4 linked regions of the Homo sapiens genome follow. Each later gene encodes a partner of the first gene's protein in a complex. Each region holds a gene or a part of one and is shown in the gene's direction. Other genes may lie near its edges.

Region 1 (2,527 bases):
GCAGTGGTGTTCTGAAGAGTAGGCATGGATGCACAAAGGTGGTCTTTGTGAAAGGCAGAGATCATTCTGGTTGGGAGGCAGAAAAGGGAGGATGAGGGAAGGCTCGTACATGGGACAGAGCTTAGGTGATGAAGATGCTGTGTTAACCACCATTTTGTAATTATTAATGTGGACCTGGGCATCCAAGTGGCAGTACCCAGCAGCAGGCGGTTAAAAAGCAATTCCTGGGCTGGGCACGGTGGCTCACACCTGTAATCCCAGCACTTTGGGAGGCTGAGGCGGGCGGATCACAAGGTCAGGAGATCGAGACCATCCTGGCTAACACGGTTAAACCCTGTCTCTACTAAAAAGTACAAAAAATTAGCTGGGCGTGGTGGCGGGTGCCTGTAATCCCAGCTACTCGGGAGGCTGAGGCAGGAGAATGGCGTGAACCCAGGAGGCAGAGTTTGCAGTGAGCCGAGATTGCACCACTGCATTCCAGCCTGGGAGACAGCAAGACTTCGTGTAAAAAAAATAAATAAATAAAAAGCAATTTCTGGCTGGGCACAGTGGCTCATACCTGTAACCCCAGCACTTTGGGAGGCCAAGGTGGGCCAATCACTTGAGCCCAGAATTTCGAGACCAGCCTGGGCAACATGGAGAAACCCCCAGGTACTCGGGAGGCTGAGTTGGGAGAATCACCTGAGCCTGGGAAGTCAAGGCTGCAGTGACCCACGATTGCATGATTGCACCACTGCACTCCAGCCTGGGTGACAGGAGTGAGACCCTGTGTCAAAAAAAAAAAAAAAAAACCCACAATGTCTGAAATGCAGGAGAAATCGTGTGCAGAAGTAAAGCAGCAGGATTCATAATTTTGCTGGGGTAAACCCTAAGGCAGTTATTTTGTTAAATTCCAGAATTCCTTAACTCTGTTGTAGAGTAGCAGATCAGTTCCCAGGAGGTGTGACTGTGGATGTAGAATGTTAGGTTTTTTAACAGCTAGACTCCCAAGACTGTTAGATAGGGAGTCAGTGGTCAGAGTCTCACTTTGGACACATTAGTTTGAGGAGCCGTGGTCAGAGTCTCACTTTGGACACATTAGTTCGTTGGCTGCTGTTAAAAAACATTAAAAGGCAGTGGTCTCTCCTGGTCAGGCTTAGAATGGAGGTGTGCGGAGCAAGGCGGGAAACTTGCCTGACTGAGCAGGGAGGCACTCAGACACCATCACACATCTGGCACACAGGCTTTTCAACACTGAGGAGCAGCCCTGCCTAAGCTGCGGGCTGGTGGAGTGGGTCAGGCCCAGCCAGGGAAGAACACTCATCACCTAGCAGCCTGGGGCATAGCACGAACAGTGAAGCTCCTGGTTGACCCTGAACCACTGGCCAGGCTCAAGGCGGGATACCCAGAGTGGTGACAAGCCTTTTCTCTTGCAGAGTTATTCCCAGAACCTGTGTCTTTTGGCCAAGTGTTTCCTTGACCATAAGACACTGTACTATGACACAGACCCTTTCCTCTTCTACGTCATGACAGAGTATGACTGTAAGGGCTTCCACATCGTGGGCTACTTCTCCAAGGTCAGTGCCTGCCCAAGCTGTCCCTGTGCCCTGTCCTGAGCCAGATCCCTTCCCTGACACTCACCTGTCCCCCTTCTCCAGGAGAAAGAATCAACGGAAGACTACAATGTGGCCTGCATCCTAACCCTGCCTCCCTACCAGCGCCGGGGCTACGGCAAGCTGCTGATCGAGTTCAGTGAGTATGTGTGCTGCGGCCAGGGGGTAGTGGACCCACTATCGGTGCCTCACAGGCAGATGGGCCAGGCTACTGTGATTCTCAACCCTGGCTGTGCAGCCCAGCCTCTAGGGGAACCAGCCAGAAATAACAGTGGCACTCTCCCGGGGTTCTCTCCGTTCAGGCTGACTGCCCTGCTTATCTGGGGTAGGTTCTCAGCCCCCCAGTTTGCTCCTTGGCCAGGGTTCTAAGTGCCACTCAGCTTTCCCCAAATCTGACTTACGTGCTCCTGCCTGGAGCCATGGGCAGAAGGTTAGTGAGCCGCTGGTGCTGATGTATCTGGTAACGTGTGCCATGATACGAGTACTGGGGCAAGGACCAGTGGCTAATGTCCCCAGTTGTCCCCTGAGCCTTGCAGGCAGGTATCCAAAATGCTGTCAGCAGATAGACATAAGCATGTTGTCCCTCGCTCCTTGTGTCCAGTGAGGTCAGTCTCTTAAAGCCAGAAGGGACTCTGAACTTCATCACACATGGGCTCTTCAGTGCCCTCCCCAACCCTGAGGCCCCTTCTTCCCAGCCTCTTACTCCCCATCACCCCCCATTCTGTCTGTCTCACCACTCACTTGGAATAACCAAGCTCTGACCTGAGAAACAAGGAGGAAGTTCTAGCTGTTGACCTGGTGAAGACACAGAGGCTTTACCTGATCAAGGTTATGGTCCATTCGAGAAATTTTATTGGTTAAATGATGCCCAGATGGGGTCACATCCTCAGAACTTCTCAGCCTGGTAGCACAAGTGGATGCTTGAAGAAACTCAG
Region 2 (4,426 bases), on another chromosome or scaffold:
AAATGCACGACATATACCTAGGACTTTAAGTGCTGTTCCATCATCTGCCTTAAAGCTGGCCGCTGCAGCAAACTGTCAAGTTTCCAAGGTCCCATCTTCATCCTCTGTAGATTCAGTTCCAAGGTGAGTAGTTATTTTTGCCTAACATACCTGGAATAAGAGATCTAACTTCAGTCCTCCAGCATCGTTCTTTACCTATTTCTTTGTGTTTCTTGTTCTTTTCCTTTTATACATTGAAAATGTATAGTTGAGAATTGATCACTTATTTATTCAAGAACTAAACAGTTCTTGAACACTTAATTCAATATTAAGAATTTGAACTAACTGGTATAGTGAATGTTGCATATATGATTTGGAACATCCCTTTCTTACTATAACAATAGTTATACCAGGTGCAGTGGCTCACGCCTGTAATCCTAGCACTTTGGGAGGCAGAGGCAGGCAGATCACCTAAGGTCAGGAGTTCGAGAACAGCCGATCCAACATGGTGAAAGGCCACCTCTACTAAAAATACAAAATCACCCGGGCATGGTGGCGCATGCCTGTAATCTCAGCTACTCAGGAGGCTGAGGCAGGAGAATCGCTTGAACCTGGGAGGTGGAGGTTGCAACCAAGATCGCACCATTGCACTCTGGCCAGGGCAACAAGAGCTAAACTCTGTCTCAAAAAAAAAAAAAAGCGTATAATGCTCTCAGTTTTCTTCCGTCTTTGGATGGAAGGAGTTCTCCTGAGAGCGTTTCTTTTATGACTTTTTTTCCACAGCTTCTCATGTAAACAGGTAGAATTGATAGAAACCCCTGCCCCATCACTGGTATGCTAAGCTATTCTTTTTTTTTTTTTTTTTTTTTTTTTTTTGAGACCGAGTCTCGCTCTGTTGCCCAGGCTGGAGTGCAGTGGCACAATCTCAGCTCACTGCAATCTCTGCCTCCCAGGTTCAAGTGATTCTGTCTCAGCCTTCTGAGTAGATGGGATTACAGGCATACACCGCGATGCCTGGCTAATTTTTGCATTTTTAGCAGGGACGGGGTTTCACCATGTTGGCCATGCTAGTCTTGAACCCCTGACCTCAGGTGGTCAGCCTGCCTTGGCCTCCCAAAGTGCTGGAATTACAGGCATGAGCCACCACGCCCGGCGTTAAGCTATTCTTATTAATGTAAAGACTTACAGTATTCATGCCAGGTCAACTCTAAATTGAACCATTATTTTTTGTGCTAACTTGCCGTCTTGGATTTCAGTAGACAGTTGAGAATTTTGCTTATGCTCTATTATGTTGTAGAATTAAGGGTAGTTAAAATCCTGCTGTCTACAAGGTACTGTGGGAGAAACAAAAGAAAAAGACAGGTGTTTTCAGTTTAGTTAGCAGACAAGCATAAAAGAGTGAGAAGTCCAATAATGCTAATTGTAGATATCACAAAGCATTATATACTTGTTAAATTAATTGTATAGATGATGGCTGTAATTCAGTATAAGGAGAAATCTTTTTTTGCACAGGGAATTCTGGGACTCTTCTAACAAAATAAGATCAGATCCAATCTGTGTTAGTCTTCGGGCAAAGAGGAGAAAGAAAAAGCATTTCTGGCAGGTGGAGTGAAATACAAATTTGAGGCTGAGTGAAAATACAAAGTTGAGGAAATACAAGTGTTTAGAAGTTAACAAGTAAACTGGTTTTTGTATAGGCTCAGGAAGGTTAGTAGTTTAAATTGGAATGGCAGGAGAAGCCATTCCAGATTCCTGGAGCACTTTAAATGCCAGACTGGTAGACTGTCTCAGCCAGGAGTGGCCCAGAAGAAAGCAGGGTTTGTAGCAATGAACTGTGGCCTGTAGTTTCCAAACCATGCATCTGCATCTGCTTCTGAATTTAAGTAACAGTCATTGTCTGCTTAATGCCAATCCATTCTTAATAGTATTCTGGGTCTAATTATATAGCTCATCTGTCAGCTATAGTTCTGACTCATATCATGATTTTACTGCTCTAGAATTGTTTAACCATGGAATATTTGCCATGTATAGAATTTTCATATCACATGTCCTTTTGTTTTTAAAGATGAAGAAACTGAGACGCAGAGAAGTTAATGTATTTCTCTAAGGACACTCAAAAGTCTAGACTGTAGAACCACTAGGGCCCTCGAGCTCTGTGGCTGTGCCACTCAGCTCCATGTATTAGACTGATTTAAAGCCTGACACAAATCTCAGTTATGTTTGTTTCCTTTTTAAAAACTCTTTTGAAAGGTTTAATAGAGAAGGAACTTGAAACAACAATTACTAAAACATGGGAATTCTTTGTTTTTAACATCTAGGTTGCTTGAGTACTACTATAATTTTGATGGTAATGTAGTTGACTGTGGAATTTATTTATAGTCAACATTAGCCTGATTTCTGATAATAAACTATAAAGATTCGTATTCCTCTACTTGCTAGCTTGTTCCCAAAGAGTCCAATTTCTTCCTGTTAATAAAAATAAACTTTTTGTTGGGAAGATAATGTTCATTTGCTGAATATTTATGTTGTAGATAAGTAATTGATTGAACTTTATTTCAACAGGGAAAATCATGAATCAGAAAAGCCAGCACTGAACAACATAGCAGACAACACAGTAGCGATGGAGGTGACGTAGCTTCCTCCGAGTGGAACTGCAGCCTGGGGACTTGATTAGGTGCTATGCATCAGTAGCATTTTGAATGCAAGGGATGATGGAAAGCAGCACATGCGTTTCTGTGGCAGCTGTGGGGACTTGACAGCAATGCTCATCTCTCATGCTTCAATTTTTCTTTTCTTACTGTTAATAGGAAAAAAATCAACATCTGTAAATTAAGAATACAGCAATTATCTGTACAGTACTGCATATTTGTAATACCCTTGTATATATGTTACTTGAATACAGAAATGTTCATTTGTGATGCTTTGCACTTGGGGGTGGGGGGTGGGAGGGAAATCAATTGCAACAAAGAGTGTGAGATGTGAGATTGTATAGAGATGAAGTGTCATCACATCATGTGCATGGTGCGGAACCTGCTGTTTTATCTATTTATTGTGCCGTGTTTACAGTTTTTTGTACACTGTACCTTCATTGGTTCCTGTGCTGTAGTAAATGTGTTAGGTAGCTGTGGACTCCTTGGTATTTTGTAAATGGTATAACATAACTTGGTTCCCCTCTGGGTCCTTGAGTTTTCTGTGTATCATGTGAAAAAAAATGGTGACATACATACAGAATTTTACAAAAAAAAAAAAAAAAAAAAAGGCATCAGTTTTTTTAAAAATGGGGAATGTACTATTAAATGGGGATCTTCCTGGTCTACTATCATTAGGACAAGTAACAAGCTAAAAATGAAGTCTCTTGAATCTTTCCATCCCCAACTTGCCCACAAAGCTGTGGGTGGTTTCTGGTACTTAAAGCACTAATATTATGTTGCTGCTCTGCGAACAGCCCAGTAGTCCCATTTCCTTCCACACCAAAAAGTGTTAAATCAAGTATGCAAATGGAGTCCTTACAACTGGAGTTTATGTTGTCTTGCCCTTTTTTTAGCACAAAAAAAATTGTACTTTTTTATTGTCGAATTGTTTAAAAGACTTCATTCTTTACTTGTTCTTACGAAAAGGATATAAGGGAGAAGAATGCAGTAATTGCTGTACGTGTATCATCATTCCAGTTTCTAAAAACAGCCAGCCAGCTTTTTTCCTTTTAAGATTCTCCAGAAGGCTGCAAGGCCAGAACCACAAATATCGGGTGCCTTCCTTTGGAAATATTTGACCTCTCTTCTGTGAAGAGAATGGTACTTAACAGACTACTACTAGTGCTTTGTCAGTACCGAAGTCTGAATGCCCAGTCCAATGGCATACATTATCCTTAAGGTTTTTAATCCCACCTGGAAAAATTGTGATAGAATTCTCACAAAATAAACCCAGGGCATTACATGTTGACAAACTAATGTGTAGTGGTCTTTTGCTTTTGTTTTCAACCCAAGAACCTCTGTGTGACTTATATTAGAATCATTCCATAAAGGAGGGGATGGAAATGGGGGGTGATGACTTTAAGTTCATTTTCTTCAACAGTTACTTACTGAATGACTGCAATGCCTGGGACCACTTTAGGTCCTACAACTGTGGGGAAAATAATTCCTGCCCTCATGGAGCTTATACTCTCATAGGGGGAAAATAAATAAATAAATGCATTTAAAATATATTACGACCAGTATTTGGAAGAAAAGTGAAGGAAGGGAACAAACAGTGCCCGGGAAGGCTGGAGGTTGCAGTTTCAAGTAGGGTGGTCAAGGAAGGGCCCACAGGCAGTTATGTTTCATCAGAGACTGGAAGTTAAGGAAAAATATTCCAGGCAGAGAGAAGTACAGAGATCCCGAGGTGGTAGTGTGTCTACTGCACTGGATAACACCGCCAGGGCTGGAGGGAGCTGGGGTAGGGCGTGTCGGCC
Region 3 (5,104 bases), on another chromosome or scaffold:
TTCCTCCTATCTAAATGTAATTTGGGGCCAAGCGAGGTGGCTCACACCTGTAATCCCAGCACATTGAGAGGCTGAGGAGTGGGGATCACTTGAGCTCAGGTGATCACCGTGGGCAACATGATGAAATCTCATCTCCACAAAAAGTACAAAAAATTAGCCAGGCGTGGTGACACGAGCCTGTAGTTCCAGCTACCCACGAGGCTGAGGTGCGATGATCACTTGAACCCAGGAGGTCGAGACTGCAGTGAGCAGTGATTGCATCACTGTATTCCAGCCTGGGTGACAAAGTGAGATCCTATCTCAAACAAACAAACAAACGAACAAACAAATGTAATTGGGGGCCAGTGTGGTGGCTCACAGCTGTAATCCTAGCACTTTTGGAAGCCAAGGTGGGAGGACAGCTTGAGCCCAGGAGGTCAAGGAGGCAGTGAGCCATGATCCTGCTGCTGCACTCCAGCCTGGGCAATAGAGACCCTGTCTCAAAAAAAATTGTAATTTTGTGTCTTTTTTTTTTTTCTTTTGAGATGGAGTCTTGCTCTGTTGCCAGGCTGGAGTGCAGTGGCACAATCTCAGCTCACTGCAACCTCTGCCTCCCGGGTTCAAGCGATTCTCCTGCCTCAGCCTCCCTAGTAGCTGGGACTACAGGTGCGCGCCACCACACCCAGCTAATTTTTGTATTTGTAGTAGATACGGGGTTTCACCATGTTGGCCAGGATGGTCACAATCTCTTGACCTCGGGATCTGCCCGCTTCAGCCTCCCAAAGTGCTGGGATTACAGGTGTGAGCCACTGTGCCAGGCCCAATTTTGTCTTTTTTTTTTTTCTGAGACGGAGTCTTGCTCTGTTTCCCAGGCTGGAGAGCAAATGGCGCGATCTCGGCTCACTGCAACCTCCGCCTCCCGAGTTCAAGCAATTCTCTGCCTCAGCCTCTCGAGTATCTGGGATAACAGGCGCCCACCACCACGACCAGCTAATTTTTGTATTTTTAGTAGAGATGGGGTTTCGCCATCTTGGCCAGGCTGGTCGTGAACTCCTGACCTCATGATCCACCCCCTTCGGCCTCCCAAAGTGCTGGGATTACAGGTGTGAGCCACAATTTTGTGTCTTTTAACAAATCTTTCCCTGTCCCTTCCTTCCCCCTGCTCTTCCCAGCCTCCAGTATCCTCTGTTCTTTCACTTCTATGAAATCAACTTTTTAAAAGCGTCACATATGAGTGAGAACATGCAGTGTTTTAACTTTCTGTTCGTGGCTTAAGTCAGTTAACATGTCCTCCAGTTCCATCCATGTTGCTGCAAATGACAGGATTTTCTTCTTTTTAATGGCTGAAAAGTATTCCATTGTGTATATACACCCTATTTCCTTTATTCATCTGTTGTTGGACACAGAGATTGATTTCCTATTTTGGCTACTCTAAGTAGTGCTGCAATAAATATGGGGGTGCATAAATATGGAGTGCAGACGTCTCTTGGATATACTGATTTCCTTTTTTTTTTTCCTCCTAAATTGGCTTCCTCAGGTTGAATTATGTCCTTTCCTTTGGATAAATGTCTATGGCTGTGTTTTTAACCACAATACTATGCTTCCTTCCTCAAGGATTTTTGACTTTATCTTGTAGATGATGTGGAGCCATTAAAAATGTTTGAGGACAGGAGTGGCAAAACGTGGGTTTTTAGAAAGTTTCCTACTAGCAGCAGTGTAGAAAATGGACTGGAGCGGAGAGAATGACCTCTTCTAAAAGAAAATGTGAGCTGGGGGCGCAGGCTTATGCCTGTAATCCCAGCACTTTGGGAGGCCGAAGCGGGCGGATCACCTGAGGTCAGGAGTTCGAGACCAGCCTGGCCAACACGGTGAAAGCTGTCTCTACTAAAAATACAAAAATTAGTTGGGCATGGTGGCGGGCGCCTGTAATCCCAGCTACTCGGGGGACTGAGGCAGGAGAATCGCTTCAGCCCGGGGGACGGAGGTTGCAGTGAGCCGAGATCGTGCCACTGCACTCCAGTCTGGCGACAGAGCGAGGCGAGACTCCGTCCCTACGGAAAAAAAAAACCATATATATATATAAAATAAAAATAAATAAAATAAAATGTGTTGACTTAGGGTTATGGGGGTCTTCGTACCACCAAGTGGACTCATTGAGCAAGGGAGATCGCTGGGTACTAGAGCAAGCGGCCTAGAGCATCCGCGCAGGAGTAGGAGAGGCTGAAGAGTAAAGAGGGTTTAGAGGGTGGGACTGGGAGTCTCTCGACACTCTGTTACTTCTGCCTGTAAACGCCCGACTTCCGCCGCTGGTGGCCACCCGCAGGTAGTGATGTCGAGCGTCGAGCTCCCAAAACCGAGCTGGTGAGGGGCTGCAGGTGGCGGCGCAGTCTCGGTAGGCGGTATGAGTTTGGCTGGGGGCCGGGCACCCCGGAAGACCGCTGGGAACCGGCTTTCTGGGCTTTTGGAGGCAGAGGAGGAAGATGAGTTCTACCAGACGACTTATGGGGGTTTCACAGAGGCAAGATCCGGGCCTGGGAAAAGGGAGGGGAGGAGGCAAAGAGGAGCCCTGAAGGGAGAAACCCCGGACAAAGAAGAAGAGGGCGGGGAATAGAGAGGAGCTCTGGGAGCTGATACTCGAGTTGGGTGGGTGAATCGGAGCCGGGGGGCGAGGCGGGGGAACGGATAGTGTGGAGTCCTAGAAGGGAGAGCTCTGGATGGGGTCAAAGGGGCCTGAGACGGAGAAGCTCTCCGGAGGCACTCCAGAGAACAGAGAACGGCAGAAACCTACCGTATACTTGCGTGGTTGCATCTTTCACTGTACTTCTGACGTCCAGCATACACGAGGCACACACATAGTAGTAGACAGTTGCTCGATGTATACTCGTTGGCCCACTGCTGGATTATTCACCTGAGACATGGAAAGGAACCGCTCCAAAAGTAGAGGAGCTTAGCCCACTTCTTTTTCAGCTTTCAGGTCTCAGTGTAAATGTTTTCTCAGGAAGATAACCCTTCCTTGACTATCCTAACAAGTGTCCCCATTTATTTCTTCCACAGAACATATTTCAATTTGCAATTAGATTTGGTTTGCTTACTTGCTTATGCTTTTCTATTGCATTGTAAACTGTATAAAGTTAGAGATGGTCTGTTTTGTTCAACATTATGTGTGAGGTGTCCGGACTGGGCTGCCACTTGCTAAATTTTTATTAGTTGAATCTACCCGTTTATTAAATGTGTTGAGTACCCAGAGCATGCCATCGGTAATAGGTTGTTTTAGGCTCTAGGGAAACAGAATATTAAAAACAGTGCTCTGTCCTTACATACTCCATGCCCCAGTGGGGTAACTGCCTGGGTTAACAGTTAAAATACTGTGTGATAGGCCGAGCACAGTGGCTTTGGCCGGGCACAGTGGCTCACGCCTGTAATCCCAGCACTTTGGAAGGCCGAGGCGGGTGGATCACAAGGTCAGGAAATCGAGACCATCCTGGCCAACATGGTAAAACCCCCTGTCTCTATTAAAATACAAAAATTAGCCAAGCGTGGTGGTGTGCGCCTATAGTCCCAGCTACTCAGGAGGCTGAGGCAGAGAATCGCTTGAACCTGGGAGGAGGAGGTTGCAGTGAGCCGAGATCGTACCACTGCACTCCAGCCTGGGCGACAGAGCAGGACTCCGTCTCAAAAACAAACAAAAAATGTGTGATAAGGACTAAAACAAGGTGTAAGAGTGTTAAGGTAATACATCTGAACCAAAGTTGTTGATCAGGATAGGCATCCCTGGAGGGATGATGTTTAAGCTGAGGACAGTTTGAAAAGTAGACCTTAGCTTGATGAAAAGCAGGAGAAGGAGAAAGGTTAGTCCACAGAGCAGGATGGGCTGAGTATGTAAAGACATTGAGATCCTGGTCTAGGACCTGCAAGTCTACTTTCATTCTCCAGAGCATGAAGGAGACTAAAGATTGATAAGCCTGCAGGGAGTAGGCATGGGCCAGATCCTTTAGGGCCTTGTGAGCTATGTTAAGGAATTTTGCTCTTCATCCAGAGGACTGAGAAGAGTCATCAGAATTCCACGATGAAATTTGTACTTTAGGAAGGTTACTTACTCTGTAATGAGAATGGCTTGAAGGGGGCATGGCAGTAGAGAAACAGAAAGATTCAAGAGAAATTAAGGAATAGAACCCACAGGACTTAGGGGCTGGGTGTGGTGGCTCACGCCTGTAATTCCAGCACTTTGGGAGGCTGAGGCGGGTGGATCACGAGGTCAGGAGTTCGAGACCAGCCTGACCAACATGGTGAAACCCTGTCACTACTAAAAATGCAAAAAATTAGCTGGTTGTGGTGGCGTGTGCCTGTAATTCCAGCTACTTAGGAGGCTGAGGCAGGAGAATCACTTGAACCCAGGAGGCAGAGGTTGCAGTGGATTGCGCCACTGCCCTCCAGCCTGGGCGACAGAGTGAGACTCTGTCTCAAAAAAAAAAAAAACCCACATCACTGACAGAGTCATTACTGACACAGCCCTAACCAACTAGTTTAAAATAGAACTTTCTCATCCCTCCTCTAAGGCCATTTTCCTATTTCTGTCATTTTACGACTTGTTATTTAATATGTACCCTTCATGCTTCCAAAAAGGATTTAAGGAGGCTTACAATATAAACAAAAAGTAGGAACAGTAAAAATAGAGACAGATCAGAAGTAATTGTACCAGGAACCTCTGCTAAAATGGTAATAGCAATTGATATTAAATTTAGTTGTGAGCTTCCTGGTAGCCAAACCTTGTATTTCTTTTTTTAGTAAGAAAGAAGCATACAAGTTCTTCAAGAGACACAAACTTTTTCAGCCTTAAATCCTAGGGAGCATTTATCATTATATCCTTATATTATAAAAAGTAATGGTTTTCATAGATGATATACAAACATTCTCTTTTCTAGTGATGTCTCTTAATGACTCTCAATAAAAGCCGAAGGAATGGTAGTAAATCCTTAATTTAGTGCAAGTATGTTGATTGGGCACTAAGCTAATGTGTGGTTGATCTACTACCCTCTGGTGATATGGCTTAATACCAGATTAAAGCTGAGGGGATTAATGTGTTCCCAGGCTGTCTTTTACAAACATCAGTTAGGAGGAAATGATG
Region 4 (3,764 bases), on another chromosome or scaffold:
GCTGTAAATAAGTGTCCTTGTTGTATTCTATTTAGTGCTACGTTTGTCACTTTTGTTCTTTGAGACAGGGTCTTGCTCTGTCGCCCAGGCTGGAGTGCAGAGGCACGATCATGGCACACTGCAGCCTCAGTGCCCACCACACACACACACACACACACACACACACACACACACACACCACCCCTGGGACTCAATCAGTCCTCTGGCCTCAGCCTCCTCATCAGCTGGGACCACGGGCATGCACCACTATGCCTAGCTAATTTCTGTTTTTGTTTTGAGACGGAGTCTAGCTCTGTCACCAGGCTGGAGTGCAGTGGCACGATCTCGGCTCACTGCAACCTCTGCCTTCTGGGTTCAAGCAGTTTTCCTGCCTCAGCCTCCTGAGTAGCTGGGATTATGGGCACCCGCCACCATGCCCAGCTAATTTTGGTATTTTTAGTAGAGACAGGGTTTCACCATATTGGCCAGGCTGGTCTCGAACTCCTGACCTCGTGATCTGCCCACCTCAGCCTCCCAAAGTGTTGAGATTACAGGGGTGAGTCACCGCGTCCGGCCTAATTTTTTTTTTTTTTTTGTAGAGATGGTGTTTTGCCATGTTGCCCAGGCTGGTCTCAAACTCCTGGGCTCAAGCAATCCACCCGCCTCAGCCTCCCAAAGTGTTGTCACTTTTTTTGTGCCTTTTTTTTTTAAACTTTTTGGGGCCATTTGTTGGTGATATTGCCATTTAAAGTGTCCCCTGTGCACAGTGTTGAAGTGCTGTCTAGTATCCTAAGTGCAAGGAGGCTGTGAAGCCTGACGGAGAAAATGCCATGTTACAGACGCTTCGCTGAGCCCAAGTTAGAATGCTGTTGACACGAGCTCCATGTTAGAGAATAAACAGTGATGTTACATAACAAACACATGGAAATAGAAACACACATACATGAGGCCAGGCGCGGTAGCTCACACCTGTAATCCCAGCACTTTGGGAGGCCGAGGTGGGTGGATCACGAGGTCAAGAGAATGAGACCGTCCCGGCCAACATGGTGAAACCCTGTCTGTATTAAAAATAGAAAAAACTAGCTGGGCGTGATGGCGTGCGCCTGTAGACCCAGCTACTTGGGAGGCTGAGGCAGGAGGATCGGTTGAACCCGGGAGGCGGAGGTTGCAGTGAGCCGAGATCGCGCCACTGCACTCCAGCCTCGCAACAGAGCGAGACTCCGTCTCAAAAAACAAACCAAAAAGACCAGAAACACACAAATGAAAATACGCATAGACCCAGATTATATATATATGGATTGATGAAAATACTGTAAGCCGAGGCTCGAGAGAGCCTAACCCTGTATTCCAGTAGGAGCAGTGGCTCAGGATCAGCTAATTGGAGTGTTCACGATGACTTTCTAGAACCTCACTACTGTGAATAAGGGGAACTGACTGTATCCCCTGGCACCAGCCCTGGGCTGGCCCCGCTGCAGCAGGGAACAAGACAGGTGCAGTCCCCTCCTTTGTGAAGCTTTGTGTCGAGCACGGGAGTGGGACCTTGATCCAGTAATCCTGGAGGCAGAGATCTAGCTTAAAGCAGCCCAGCTCCGCGGAAAGGTGCCCTTGGGGGACTGACGCAGCTGTGGAAGGCTGCGTCATCAGGGGTGATGTCATCATGTGACAGGAGACGCGAGCTAAAGGTTAAGTGGTGTTGGGCCCAGTGAGTGGGTGGCGATGGGAGGTGAGAGTGTTCCCAGCAAAGGGAATGAAGAGGGAACATGCCCCTGACAGCCCCCTCTTTCTGCCTCTTCCTCAGAATCCGGGGCACCAGCTACCAGAGCCCTCACGGCATCCCCATAGACCTGCTGGACCGGCTGCTTATCGTCTCCACCACCCCCTACAGCGAGAAAGACACGAAGCAGATCCTCCGCATCCGGTGCGGGCAGGACCAGGCCGTGCGCCTGAGACGCAGGGCTGGGGTCTACCCTGTTTGACAAATGCTGACACTGAGGTCCAGCGGAGTGGCATGGTGGCTGGGCCTACAGGAGAGAGGGCTGAGCGGGCACCCAGACGGTGGCCTCCGATCCGGGAGCAGGAGCCACGGTGGGAAAGGGAGGCGAGGTACCCGTGACTGGTGTTGGGGCCAGCGCCCTGGGGGTGGTCAGGAGGCCTCGGTTTTAGGTCCAGCCCAGCCCCTGTCTCCGTGGCTCTTCTAGCCTCAGCATTCTATGGTTCTAAGATGCAGGCGCCACATATTCCCAGTGGGGAAGGGCCAGAGGGTTGCTGTGGCCACTTCTGCTGCAGTCAGAGGCTGGGCCCCGGCTGAGCCACCCCTGTCCCCCACTGCTTGCAGGTGCGAGGAAGAAGATGTGGAGATGAGTGAGGACGCCTACACGGTGCTGACCCGCATCGGGCTGGAGACGTCACTGCGCTACGCCATCCAGCTCATCACAGCTGCCAGCTTGGTGTGCCGGAAACGCAAGGTCAGCCGGCCGAATTAGCCAGCAGGGCCAGATGGCGGCAGTGAGTGACACAGTACTTCAGGGGCTTCCAGGGTTCCGATTTCATCCTAGAATGTACGTTTTCAGACGCAGGGAATTTTCATCCCTCAGGTTGGCTTCTGTATCATCCAGCCTGGCCTATAGTAGGTATCAGTAAATCTCTCTTGACTTAAGTAGATGCTGTTAGGTCCACCTTACAGATAAAGAAACTGAGGAATGAAGAGGCTGGGCCCACAACAAGGAGATGGCCAGGCAGGATTTGAACCCAGGCAATCTGGCCCAGAATGCCCTCCCCTCACATGCCACACTCTGCTGCCTAGAGCATGGAGGTGGCATACGCTGGGGTCTGTGCCTTGAGCCTCACGGAGAGGGGCCCAACTGAGGACTCGCCCTCCCCCTCCAGGGTACAGAAGTGCAGGTGGATGACATCAAGCGGGTCTACTCACTCTTCCTGGACGAGTCCCGCTCCACGCAGTACATGAAGGAGTACCAGGACGCCTTCCTCTTCAACGAACTCAGTAAGAATCCCCACCCCGCACCTGCACTGCCAGAGCCAACCTCAGAGGGAGGAAGAGGGAGCTCGGCGTAGAAGGCTCAGGCCCTGCCACCTGGGCGACACTGACCATGTGGCCTTCCTTCTCCCCACAGAAGGCGAGACCATGGACACCTCCTGAGTTGGATGTCATCCCCCGACCCCACCCTGTTTTCCACCAGAGTTCTGACACTGTGACTCTGTATAAAATGGTTGGGAAGCTGCACCCACCCTGTGTATGTGTGGTTGCCCTGAGCCCACAGAAAGACACCTCCAGAGTGCGGATTGAGAAGCCTTTATTGTGGGAGGATCGGGGTGTCAGGGCTCCAGGAGTCGGGATGGACTTGGAAGGCTGCGGGGAGGGTCTTTAGAGGAAGAGGAGGCCTGAGAGTTGGGGGTGGTCACAGGTCAAGGGGTGGTCTTTGGGACCCCCACAGTCAGAGGTGCTGCGGCGGCAGGGTCCACAGCGACAGCTGAGAGCCACAGGGAAGGAGACCACGGGGTCCACACCACGCGGGCAGCCAGGGAGCCGGATGGACTCGAAGCGCACATCACGGTAGGTGCACACCACCTGAGGCAGGGGCGGCAGGACCGCCTGCAGCACGCGCATCTGGAGGCCGTGTGAGTGGGGGAATGAGCATGTGCCTGAGGCCAGCGCCTCAGCTGAGCTCCCAAGCTGACCCCACAGGTCCTGGACTCAGGAGCCCAGGAAGCCCTCTGTTCCTGCCTTCCCACACCCCATTCCCCAACCGCAGGCCAGAGAGGCAGAC

The links. The genes of interacting proteins can lie anywhere in the genome.
Region 2: KAT5 (region 1) and EPC1 share a complex: the UniProt entries of both Homo sapiens proteins name them as parts of the nuA4 histone acetyltransferase complex.
Region 3: KAT5 (region 1) and VPS72 share a complex: the UniProt entries of both Homo sapiens proteins name them as parts of the nuA4 histone acetyltransferase complex.
Region 4: KAT5 (region 1) and RUVBL2 share a complex: the UniProt entries of both Homo sapiens proteins name them as parts of the SWR1-like complex.

The regions. Positions count from the first base shown.
Region 1 is NC_000011.10:65,715,252-65,717,778, forward strand, and holds part of KAT5 (histone acetyltransferase KAT5), read left to right. Parts: intron 1-1,415; coding exon 1,416-1,556; intron 1,557-1,637; coding exon 1,638-1,731; coding exon of another isoform or gene 1,732-1,735; intron 1,736-2,421; exon of another isoform or gene 2,422-2,527. UniProt on the Homo sapiens protein: Catalytic subunit of the NuA4 histone acetyltransferase complex, a multiprotein complex involved in transcriptional activation of select genes principally by acetylation of nucleosomal histones H2A and H4.
Region 2 is NC_000010.11:32,267,251-32,271,676, reverse strand, and holds the end of EPC1 (enhancer of polycomb homolog 1), read left to right. Parts: coding exon 1-123; intron 124-2,541; coding exon 2,542-2,614; 3' UTR 2,615-3,926; downstream 3,927-4,426. UniProt on the Homo sapiens protein: Component of the NuA4 histone acetyltransferase (HAT) complex, a multiprotein complex involved in transcriptional activation of select genes principally by acetylation of nucleosomal histones H4 and H2A.
Region 3 is NC_000001.11:151,187,398-151,192,501, reverse strand, and holds the start of VPS72 (vacuolar protein sorting-associated protein 72 homolog), read left to right. Parts: upstream 1-2,304; 5' UTR 2,305-2,380; coding exon 2,381-2,497; intron 2,498-5,104. UniProt on the Homo sapiens protein: Deposition-and-exchange histone chaperone specific for H2AZ1, specifically chaperones H2AZ1 and deposits it into nucleosomes.
Region 4 is NC_000019.10:49,012,707-49,016,470, forward strand, and holds the end of RUVBL2 (ruvB-like 2), read left to right. Parts: intron 1-1,777; coding exon 1,778-1,897; intron 1,898-2,314; coding exon 2,315-2,444; intron 2,445-2,865; coding exon 2,866-2,980; intron 2,981-3,110; coding exon 3,111-3,136; 3' UTR 3,137-3,264; downstream 3,265-3,764. Other genes in the region: LHB (lutropin subunit beta), read right to left, coding at 3,362-3,604. UniProt on the Homo sapiens protein: Possesses single-stranded DNA-stimulated ATPase and ATP-dependent DNA helicase (5' to 3') activity; hexamerization is thought to be critical for ATP hydrolysis and adjacent subunits in the ring-like structure contribute to the ATPase activity.